2 separate regions of the Homo sapiens genome follow, and region 1 is linked to region 2. The links come from fine-mapping of genetic effects on gene expression. A gene starts in region 2. The other region holds a variant in brackets. All regions are shown on one strand. Distances are from middle to middle. Region 1 overlaps LOC107986930 (a long non-coding RNA gene). Region 2 holds the start of STC1 (stanniocalcin 1).

The links. PIP is the estimated chance that this variant, and not a neighbour inherited with it, causes the effect.
Region 1: its variant is fine-mapped to the expression of STC1 in fibroblasts (GENCORD, PIP 0.95).

What each region holds. Positions count from the first base shown.
Region 1 is chr8:23,742,229-23,747,606 of GRCh38, forward strand. All of the region lies in intron 3 of LOC107986930 (a long non-coding RNA gene), which reads left to right. Among named protein-coding and RNA genes, the nearest start is that of NKX2-6, 38 kb to the left of the region's middle. The variant A/G (reference allele first, on the strand shown) is at 2,407.
Region 2 is chr8:23,852,328-23,857,705 of GRCh38, forward strand. STC1 (stanniocalcin 1) reads right to left here and starts at 2,479. Exons shown (of 4, transcript NM_003155.3): 1 at 2,079-2,479; 2 at 1-57. The coding sequence starts at 2,196.

The sequences.
Region 1 (5,378 bases), 110 kb before region 2:
ATATCAAGAGTAAGACGAGATGTTCACTACCAGCAGGTGTTTTCAGCATTGTGGCTGGAGGTCCTAACCAGTGTAGGAATGCACGGACAAGACACACAAAATACAAGGACTGGAAAGAAGAAACACAATAGTCATCATTCACAGATTATATGGCTGTGTACATGAAAAATTCAAATGATCCTACAGATAAATAATTAGAACTGATAAGAGCTTACCAAGAGTGCTGGCCATAAAGCCAAGGTAAAAAAAAGCCAATTACATTTATATTATTAATAACAAACAGAAATTAAGTAAATATATACCATCTATAATAAGTCCAAGAAATGAAGTACATAAGAATAAATCTTTAAAAGTATGTATAAGACCTCTAGTGGTGAAAATGATAAATCGTTATTGAGAGTTGTTAAAGGCTGGGTATGGTGGCTCATACCTGTAATCCCAGCACTTTGGGAGGCTGAGGCAGGAGGATGGCTTGAGGCCAGGAGTTTGAGACCTGCCTCAGCAATATAGTGAGACCTCTGCCTCTACAAAACATTTAAAAAATAGCTGGGCATGGCGGTGCACACCTTTGGTCTGAGCTACTTGCAAGGCTGAGGTGGATGATCACCTGTGCCCGGGACGCAGAGGCTGTAGTGAGTCGTGATTGTGCCACTGCACTCTTGCCTGGGTGACAAAGTGAGACCCCGTCTCAAAAAAAAAAAAAAGTTGCTAAAGAAGCCCAGAGCCTTCCATGCATGTGGTATAACCTCTGCCTCTGTACCTACAAGGGCTGGGTTTTCTCTGAACTTCCTCAAGCTGCAGGTTCCTCTCTCCTTCCATAGGTGGAGGCAGCCTGGGCCTGGCTGGAGCAGGCGATTCTGTGCTGGTGGCTAGATAGAGTCACACCCCAAACCTGTTCCTTTTCTGTTCATGGTGTTGAGCAGTCAGTGACGACCTTGCTAATAAGAAGGAGAATGCCCTGGTTCAGATGGTTGATAGGTGCCAGGCCCAACTGGCTGAGAGTTATCTGCAATGGCCCTAAGTTTCCTAGGAAGCTTTGATAAGCATCAGAGCTGCAGCTTTCTCAAGAAGGCCAACAGAACTAGGGTCTAAGACTGAAGACTATGGAAACTCTCCCCTCTATTGTTTCAAAAATCCAGAATCCTAAAATTTCCAGAATGTTTCATTGTTCATAACCCTGGACCTTTTCAAAATCCTGTAGTTTATATTTTAAAAAGACCTTAAGTTTTTAACTTTTTAAAAGTAGTGGGATGTAAAAGAGACTATCAAATAGGGTGACAGTTGAATTTCCATTTGAAAAGGAAGAAATTGAGTCTCAGTGACAGGAAGTAGATAGAAAGGCAAAGATTTGAATAAAATCATATCCTGATGTCTGTTTCTTTTAAAAAAGTGGAAGAATGAGCTCAGTATTCAAATTCTTCTGGAATGATCTTAAGCTGGCCTGCAGGTAACATTCCCCAAGTCCACATTTACAGGTCGGGATGACCCATTGAGAGGAAACTGGATGAACAAAATCCTGGTGTTCAGCCTTACCTGGAAACGGGCAGAATACCTGCTGACAACTTCTGTCATCCCAGACAAATAGCTACTTTACAAAGCTCCAGATTGAAAGTGAAAGACCAGAGATGTTATGATTTTTTTAAAGAGAATAATCAGTTGACCGGTTCAAACAATTAATGAAAATCACATGGTGTTCCTTACGGTGATGGGACAGTAGTCATGGGGTCTTGATGACTATGTGAGGTGGGCGAAATACTGGCTGCTATTATTTATGCGCTGAGGACTGGCTCTGGGACAGATTTTCTCCTTTCCTGCTCTCCTCTCCTCTCTTCCCCCAACTCCCACCTCAACAGTCCTACAAATCTATGAGGTTTCACATTGGTGCCTTTCCCTACTCACTCTTCAGTACTCAAAACACCCTGAACTGCAGTGTGGTCTACCCTGAGGCCTTTGTTTTCAGGTCTTGGAAAGTGTGTGTGTGCAGGATCCCCGGCTCCTCCAAGCATGAGATTTCTAAGCATGTCCCTAGACCACCACTGTGCCATCTCGTACCTTAAAAACTTCTTATGATATTAATGAGGAAAGCCACGCTGCTTTCAGCGATGTGTAGATGCTTTGGAGAACTCAGTGGAATGGGTTATTTTACTTTCAGATGAATTCATTTTGAATAAAAAAATATCCAGGTATTGTGTTTGTTCTGCTCATGAAATACCTTCTGTCTGCAGATTATCAAGTATCTTGACACTTTGTCATCCAGACAGACACTTTTTTTTTGGAGGGGAAGGAGTTTATATGGCTGCTTGACAAAAAATGGTAAGCCTAGCCAGTGGAGACACTGATGACCCTGTTAGGTCTTTTGCTGGTTAGGAGACATCCTGCTTTCCAAGATTCAGTTAATTAAACAAC[A/G]CTGGTTCTCCCCTCATCCTCCTTTGAGCGTAATTTAGACAGGTCAGTCGGCATAACAGTCTCCTAACCATGAATAGCATGACAAGTGCCTGGCCCACCTGGCTGAGAATCACTGTTCTTTACTCTTCTGGGAGGGAAGTGGTGCCTCTCATTTAGTAAACTGTTTGGTCACCTTTGTCCCACCCCCTACTCTCTACCTGGCCTAGGGAGGCCAATTTATTACTCCCTTCTTATTGCATCTTCAACTTTTGAACTTTGGTTTCTCATATTATTCTTTTGTTGCAGTGGCAGGCATCTATTTCTAGTTGAATAGATAGTCTTCTCTTTCAAAAATTAATATGCAAGAGAAATGTTTAAAATTAACTTTTTAAAGCAAATGATGATAACAATTAAGGTGTCATTTACATTTTCTCCATTTCTTGTGTACTGTATTTTACAATTTTCTTCTTTTGTTGCTCAGTGACATAGAAGAACTGGAATTTAGATTTCAGTTAGTAAGCTGAAGTCATATCATAGCTGTGGGATTGAACGATGTGGGGTTGAGTCAAACACAAGGAAGTACTGGCAGCTCCAGTAGCCGAAAAGTGGAGAAAACGGTTGTGGTTTTCTCCAGGAAAACCTCCAGTCTAGACCTTTAGAAAGAGATCAAGCCAGCTTCTACTGCCTGGGAGGCTTCCTGCCACATACCACTCAAACTTTGATATTGCAAAATCCAATGCCATCTTTCATTTCTATGCAACTTTTAATCTGCTTAGATGTGGAAAAATATCTCTTAAAAACTCCTTCAAGATTTTTTTTTTCCAAATTGTATATTCAACTTTTGCTTTTGTTGCCTCTAGTGTTGGGGATTCAGAGGGAGGGCACTGAGGAGTTTGAATTCTCAATGTTGTGAATCCCTTGTCTGCCTTCTTGGGTGCAAATTGAACCAAGGTCCTGGACCTGCCTTTTTTGGTTACTTACCTGCTTGCCCTTAAGCTTGTGGTATCATTTCCAGAGAAATGGAAATTTCTTCCCAGAAAGAAAATCTCCCAAAGACTTTTAAACAAGGGGCCTTCTATCCCCACTGATAACACATCAGGTTTTTTTTTTAGTCTCAAATTGGAAACTCACAAGAGCCTAGCACCTGGTTACTGCCTGACCTGGCAACTGCCTGATCTAGCAAAAACTCAGCTTTCAAGGGTTGAACTCTGGAGGCGGAGGTTGCAGTGAGCCGAGATTGTGCCACTGCACTCCAGCCTGGGTGATACAGCAAGACTCCGTGTCAAAAAACAACAACAAAAAAACAGATTCCTGGTCCCCATCGCAAACCCATTCCATTCAATTACATGTGGGTGGCGCTTGGGGCAGTTCTGACGCAACCCCCAGGTTTGAAGGTCTCTGGCCTGGGTAACCGGGTCTCCTTCAAGGGAGTCCCTTGAAGGGTCCCTTTCAAGGGAGGCATGGCAAGCAGGTACAATTTAACCAAATGACCCTTTTTATCCCAATGAGAATATAGGAGCTTGGAAGAAACCGAAAGGGCTGGACCCTGAAAGTAGCATGAAATCCATGTCTGCCTTGCAATCTCTCTTTCTCTCTTTCTTTCTCTCTCTCTCTCTTCCTCCCTCCCTCCGTCGTTCTCTCTCTCTCTTTTCTTTCTTTCTCTCTCTTTCTTTCCCTTCCTTCCTTCCCTCCCTCCTTCCCTGCCTCCCTCCTTTCTTTCTCTTTCTTTCTTTTCTTTTCTTTTCCTTCCTTCCTTCCCTCCCTCCCTCCCTTCTTTCTTTCCTTTCTTTCTTTCTTTCTTCTTTCTTTCTTTCTTTCTTTCTTTCTTTCTTTCTTTCTTTCTCTCTCTCTCTCTCTCTCTCTCTCTCTCTCTCTTTCTTTCTTTTTCTTTCTTTCTTTTTCTTTCTTGGTTTTTTTCTTTCTTTCTTTCTCTCTCTTTCTTTCTTTCTTCCTTTCTTTCTTTCTTTTTTACTCTTGTTGCCCAGGTTGGAGTGCAATGGTGCAGTCTTGGCTCACCACAACCTCTGCCTCCCGGGTTCAAGCGATTCTCCTGCCTCAGCCTCCCGAGTAGCTGAGATTACAGGCATGCGCCACCACACCCGGCTAATTTTGTATTTTTAGTAGAGATGGCATTTCACCATGTTGGTCAGGCTGGTCTCAAACTCCCAACTACAGGTGATCCTCCCACCTCCGCCTCCCAAAATGCTGGGATTACAGGCGTGAGCCACCACACCCGGCCCCTGCCTTGCAATTTTTAACAGAAGTAATCCCAGCACCACTGTGCAACTTGGAGTCTATTTGCTTCTCTGATTTTGTCCATAAGGAGTGTAACAGAGATTTAAATATGAATTACTTTTTATATCTTTTGTAAAACATGAGGCAACACAGAGGCTTTTTTTTTTAATGCTAAAATAAATCAGTAGTACATCCTAAGCAATATTCTTTTGTATCCATGGAGTGGTTTAGTGACCACAAAAATATTCCTGTCTCAAAATACTTGTAATTGGGGAAATAAGCCAATTTTATAACAACTACCACCAGAAAAAAAAAAAAGCTAAATTAAAAAAATTGCCTTCTGAGTATTTGGTATGATTTATACTCAGAACATGTCAAAATATATTTTTAAACTATTCAATAATTGATAAAACAAAAAACCCCTACAAATTGAGTATGTCCTTTGAATTAACAATTCCGTTTTAAAAAATTTATTTTTATTTTTTTGGAGACAGACTCTTGCCTAGGCTGGAGCAGTGACGTGGTCATAGTTCACTGTACCCTCAAACTCCTGGGCTCCTTGACTTAACAATTGTTTCTATTTTACAAAAGCAATGCCATAATTACATAAAGATGTATGCCCCAGGACAGTAATTGGACTGGCATTTGTAACTGAAAAACAACAAAAAAAATCTATTCATTAATGTATATTTCAGTGATAATACAGTGAAATAGCACATATCCACTATAAAAATGTATGGACTTGGAAAAAAGATATC
Region 2 (5,378 bases):
ATGCAAAAGCCCCGCAGCCGACCTGTAGAGCACTGTTGAGGCAACGAACCACTTCAGCTGAAAGAGACAAATCCATCCATTCTGGGTCAAACAGTGAGGAATGGCTGGGTGGGATCAAGTGGGTGCAGAGGTGAATTTCAAGGACATGAGGTCAGAAGAACTTATCCTAGGAATCTGTCATGAGGGGCAATTGATAGACCCATTTGATTGAGAAAGAGAGGATAGACAGGCTCCTTTTGTTTATGATTGCTGGAGTACATGATGGACAGGGAGGGAGTTCTCTGTTTCAGACACACGCTCCCTGTTTCACCATTACCTACAATTTTGGTGTCTGGAGAAGTGAGGCTCAAGTCTGGAAATGCACAGTGCCTTTAAGCCATTCCATAGAATCAAAGGTCATTGCTTAGCACTTGAAAGCATGGGAAGGAAGGAGACAGTGGCTAGTGGTCAGGTTTAAGAGGTAAAAGGGCCAGGGAATCCATCTAGCTTTGGAAAAATGCACTCCCGAGTAAAAAGCATGGGATTTTAGTCTAAATGGCAGAGAAGACTGTGCCAGGAGTCCACTTGGAGACCCTTCTGATTTCAGGCTTTTAACTTACCGTCATATTGGCAAAAAGAAATCTGATCCGTTCATGTTTCACCCCAACCCTCCACTAGGACAGTGCTTAGAGGTATGCATAATCTCTTTCATATTAAAAGCCTTTTAAAAAAGAAAGAAAGAAAGAAAGAAAGAAAGAAGAAACACAGGTGTGGAATAACCAGGCCAAGGCCTCCCTATGCAAGACTGGAAGAAAACCGCAAAAAACTTGCATGAGGCTTTCTACATTCTGGATAAGATCTCCCATAAAAGTAATTTTTCTCCCACAGAAGGGGGGTGTTCTGGCAGGCAGCTAGGCAAGGAATGATCTGCAGCCTTCATGCCATAGGATTCTCCTCTGAGATCAAAAGCATGGTTCAGTTAGTCTTCCCCACCCCCTCCCACCACCCGCAGCCTCTAGGATGTTACAAGTCATTTCCCTAATTATATATTTCCACGGGTTTAAATTATAACTTTGCTTTAAGCAGTTTTAATATGCATTAGGGCTGCTATTGTTTTAGGCAAGCTCGAATTGTGAATCACTGCATCTCTATAGCAACTAAGTACAAAAGGAAGTGAAGCAAAAGCCCTCCTCTCGGCAGGGACCTGTGCTCTTCCAAGGGGATCATCATCTGCAGCATTTTGACACCTGTGATCCGGTCTTTGCTGACAGTTGGAGGACAGAGGGCAGTATTGGAAGGGGAACAAGTGGAGCCAGAGAAGTCAAGAGGCAGAGGTGTCAATGCAGGCTTCCTAATGATTCTTTTCCTTCAGAAGCCAAGATAATGCACAATTAACTGCTCCAAGAGTCAAGACGAAAGTGAGACCTTACCCTTGGAGAAACAGCTGCTACGTTTCACAATTTTTTTTTTCTAGGGGCTCTCTGGCTACGGGCTGCAGGGACGACTGAATGGAGCCCTACAGAGCCAGGAGGGAGACAGGCAGCAGGGTTGGGGGTGGGATGTATAGGGTTTTCTCTGAATCCGCCCTGGATTTGTCAGACTTGAGGGCTATGGTTCTGAAAATCAGTCTGAAGAGGGAGCTTTTCTGTGTATTCTCTTAGGTAGAGAAGTCAAGAAGTGAAGAGGTAGAGTCTTAAGAGGAAAGGAAGAGGGACAGCATCAAACAAGCCAGGTCTTACCTTAGATCAGCTTCTGGAAAGTATAGAGAGCGCTTTGAAGCATGCCAACATTCAAGCCTTTCCTCCCCTCTCACCCCTCCCCCTCCAAGAGGGTACGTGCCAGATTTCAGGCAATCAGGCTAGGCTTATGCAATGAAATACCCTCAGCAGAGCGTCCAGCTTCTTCGTTTAGTTGCATGCAATTTATTAAACAAAGGAGCTCCACTGCCTAAGGCTATTGGATTACACTGGCAGTTTATTGCCATCAGGCATGAAGCACATTTATTATCAAGATCAGCCGTCACAGACACAGTTGCAAAAGGGAGAGGCAAATGAGGACAGCTCTTTGGGGGAGAAACCGCTCTTGGGTTTGCTGCTTACCTGAGTTTTGAGCCGCCACTCGGGATTTCCTGGGGCTCACAGAGTCATTCTGCTCCGCCTCATGGGTTGCAGAAGCACTGATCACCAGCACCAGAAGCACTGCTGAGTTTTGGAGCATTCTCTGAGAAGTTTCCGCTAAGTTGTTGGGTTTTTTTTTTTTCCTGCCCCCCTTTCCTCTTTCCCTCTCCTGGCTTGAGTGAAGATGTGGATCTGGATACACTGAAAGCTTAGGTGAGGATTTGATGAGGATTTTTTTTTGTTGTTGTTGCTGGTGATGCTGCTGCTGCCACCGGTGCCTCCGCTGCTGCTGCTGCTGCCGCCGCTGCTGCTGCTGCTGCCACCGCCGCTGCTGCTGCTGCTGCTGCAGTCGCTGCTTCTTGCACCTCTGGCTTTTGCAAACTGGGGGCCCAAGAGCTGCACCCAGGGATTTTATAGCCGTTCTTATCGGTCCTCAGGATCAAGGACCAATCAGGTCCCTCAACTGGTCTGGTGAGCCAATAAGAGGGCATGCAATTCAGCTGGAGCTTTTTGACTTCTTAGAAATATTTTCCAGCAAATTAAAAGTACCTGCTGCCAATGTTTTATATGTGTGTGTGACTGTGTGTGCAGAGATGTGTGAAAAAGCTATTTTCGTGGAAGTAAGAGATAACTCTGTATTGATTGAACTAAAGAAAAATCCTATAGAAATCTCTCCAAGTTGCTTTTTGAAATCTAGCCATCTTTTTTTCTAATGAGCCACTTGGGGGAAATGGATAGCAGGGGTATGGTGGGGAAATGTGATCTCTTTAGATGAGAACTTAACCTGCTTACAGCAGTTTTACTCTAATTTTAACAGCACATTCTCGGTTCTGTTTTGTAGGCTACAAATGCAATAACTCCCTATCTTCTCTGTGTGTACATGTTCACATGTCTATGATGCATTTTTGTTTGTATGTGGACATCCTGGGTTCTCACTCACACATTTGAGCCCTTGAGGGGGAATTTATGTGAGTGGAAAAGCCTTGGGGGACTGAGATATGACAGCTCAGAGCTGAAGCCTTAGTCCCCCTACTGATCAACCTATGACTCTGGCTAAGTCTTTTTACCTTGCCCCACCTCGTTTTCCCATCTGTAAAACGCCAAAGTTGGACTCTGACATTCTGTATACCTCTAAAATAATGTGATTCTTCAATAATCAAATCAACTTTGACTTCATCTTTTCAGTCACCAGCAAAATTGCATAGTCCAGGAGTGTTAGTTACCCCAGGTACACATGTGCACACCTGCACATACCACACTCAACAGGGAGACATCATGAATGCCTGAAAATTAATAATCTGTGTTCAAGCCCAGCAACTTTATAACCACTTTGAAACAATAAGCTGGCCAAAGCAAGACTAAACCTGCTGAATGGAAACCAGTTCATTTCTTGGGGAGAGGGGTAGGAAAAAAGGGGGCAGAATGGAAAGAAGGGGTAGAGAAAGACCAGAATGTGTAGGAGAGAAGAATGATAAGCTCTAGACTTAATAGGAAAATTGCACTGCAATCACAAATCATGCCTGGTATAGAAACTTATATTTTCTTATAAGTGAGTTGTAGGCAATGCTGAGGTTTGTCCCCAACATGTGAAGGAGGTTAATGAGCCAGAAGAGGACTTCTTAGGGTAGGAAGGTGGTGAAGGTATTATACAATAAAACCTTTAATAATTTTGGGGAAGTAGATGAGAAATGGCCACTGGTGATTCATACAGATTTGGGCAGGATAATCTTGCAGAGAAATGGGGCCAGTGGCTTTACTTTGCATCCTAAAACCTTCAAACAAAAGTTGAAGAAAGAGTGCCACCCCTGTTAACCACAAACTAAACCAAGTGTCAGCTCTGTGTATGTTGTGGGGTGATAGGGTGGTGGGGGGCGGGGGGGGGGGGGCGGCGGACGGTTCTGGGTGATGATAGCCTATCCCTCACAAAATAGGGTTGTTTGGTAAGTATGAAAGTTTGCTAGAAAAAGGAATAGAAGGAATAAAGGATACAGGAAATATCTAAAAGAAAGGAAGGGAATTTTCAGATTTACATTATATAACAAGAATACATTTTAATTTATATTAACAGGCAGTATTGGTATTTCTTTAGAACCTTCTGGGCTGAGTGCTAGGGGACAATGTGGGAGGATAAATGAGAAGACATAGAGAAGAAGGTAAGTTCATTATTCTTGTCCTGAAGGTACTTACAGGTGAGTTGGGAAGATGACCAGCCACAGTCATACTTCCTAAAGGTTCGGGATGTCAGGACCTCATATAGTAAGACACAGGCTCAGGCAGCACTGGCTGGAGATGGGGGGAAAGCTCTTGAGGGAAAGATCAGTGGGGAAAGATGTAAACTGCTGTTGTTGCTTTTTAAGAATTTAGGAAAAGCTATGCTATTTCATTTTTAAAAAACAAAGCTTGTATTGTGGAAAGCTTCAAGGTTATTTGTATTGCTTTAGTTAGAAGTAGTAGATGCCAGGCAAGGCAATAGAATTTCTCAGTGCTCTCTTCCAGAAAGGGAGTAAGAGGACAGATGCGTATTCCTCCCAAGGGTCTTGACTTCTGTTCTTTAGCATTCTCTACCTCCTTGGCCATTATTCATCATCTAAGGCAGTGCCATTTGTTTCTCTTGGGCTTTCCCTGAGTTGGTCTGCTTGGCTTGGTAGGGTGATGATTTACCACCAGCCATCTACTTTGTTTTTCCAACTCTCCGTTGCTCTCACCAGAACACGATGTCCTACAAGCATCAAGATGTGTTTGTGTTTTTTTTTTCTGATGTTGATTTATTATTCCTTCTTATTTTGCTCACTTACTATCTTGTGCCTGGAAGTTCATTGCTAGGTGTGCCAAGTGTTTCCCAATAACAGGTAAACTGTCCTTTGAAGAAATACAATAGTGGTCAGCCCATTGATTTGAATGTAACTAGTATGCATGCCAATGCATTTGAGAACCTTAGGGGAAGGAGCTGAAGTCTACATGAAATGCCCAGTGTAAAATTTCTGCCTAGAATGTCATGGTATGTGGATATCCAAGTGCCCTCAATCATTGTGCAACTGTCTGGAACTGTGATATAGCAAGATAAAAGGGTCTTGGGGGCCCTGGTGGTGATGTCTGGTTTCTTTGTAACTTCTCTTGGGGGTCTGAGAGAATATGGAGGAGTTTGCTTAGCGCTCTTCACAGTCTGAGTTTTATCCTGTAAGGAACAGGAAGTTATTCGGGCTCTTGAGTAGGAATTGTTAAATGATGGGTGGAAATAAGTGTTTAGGCAAGATTATTTCATCATACTTATGATGGTTTGGA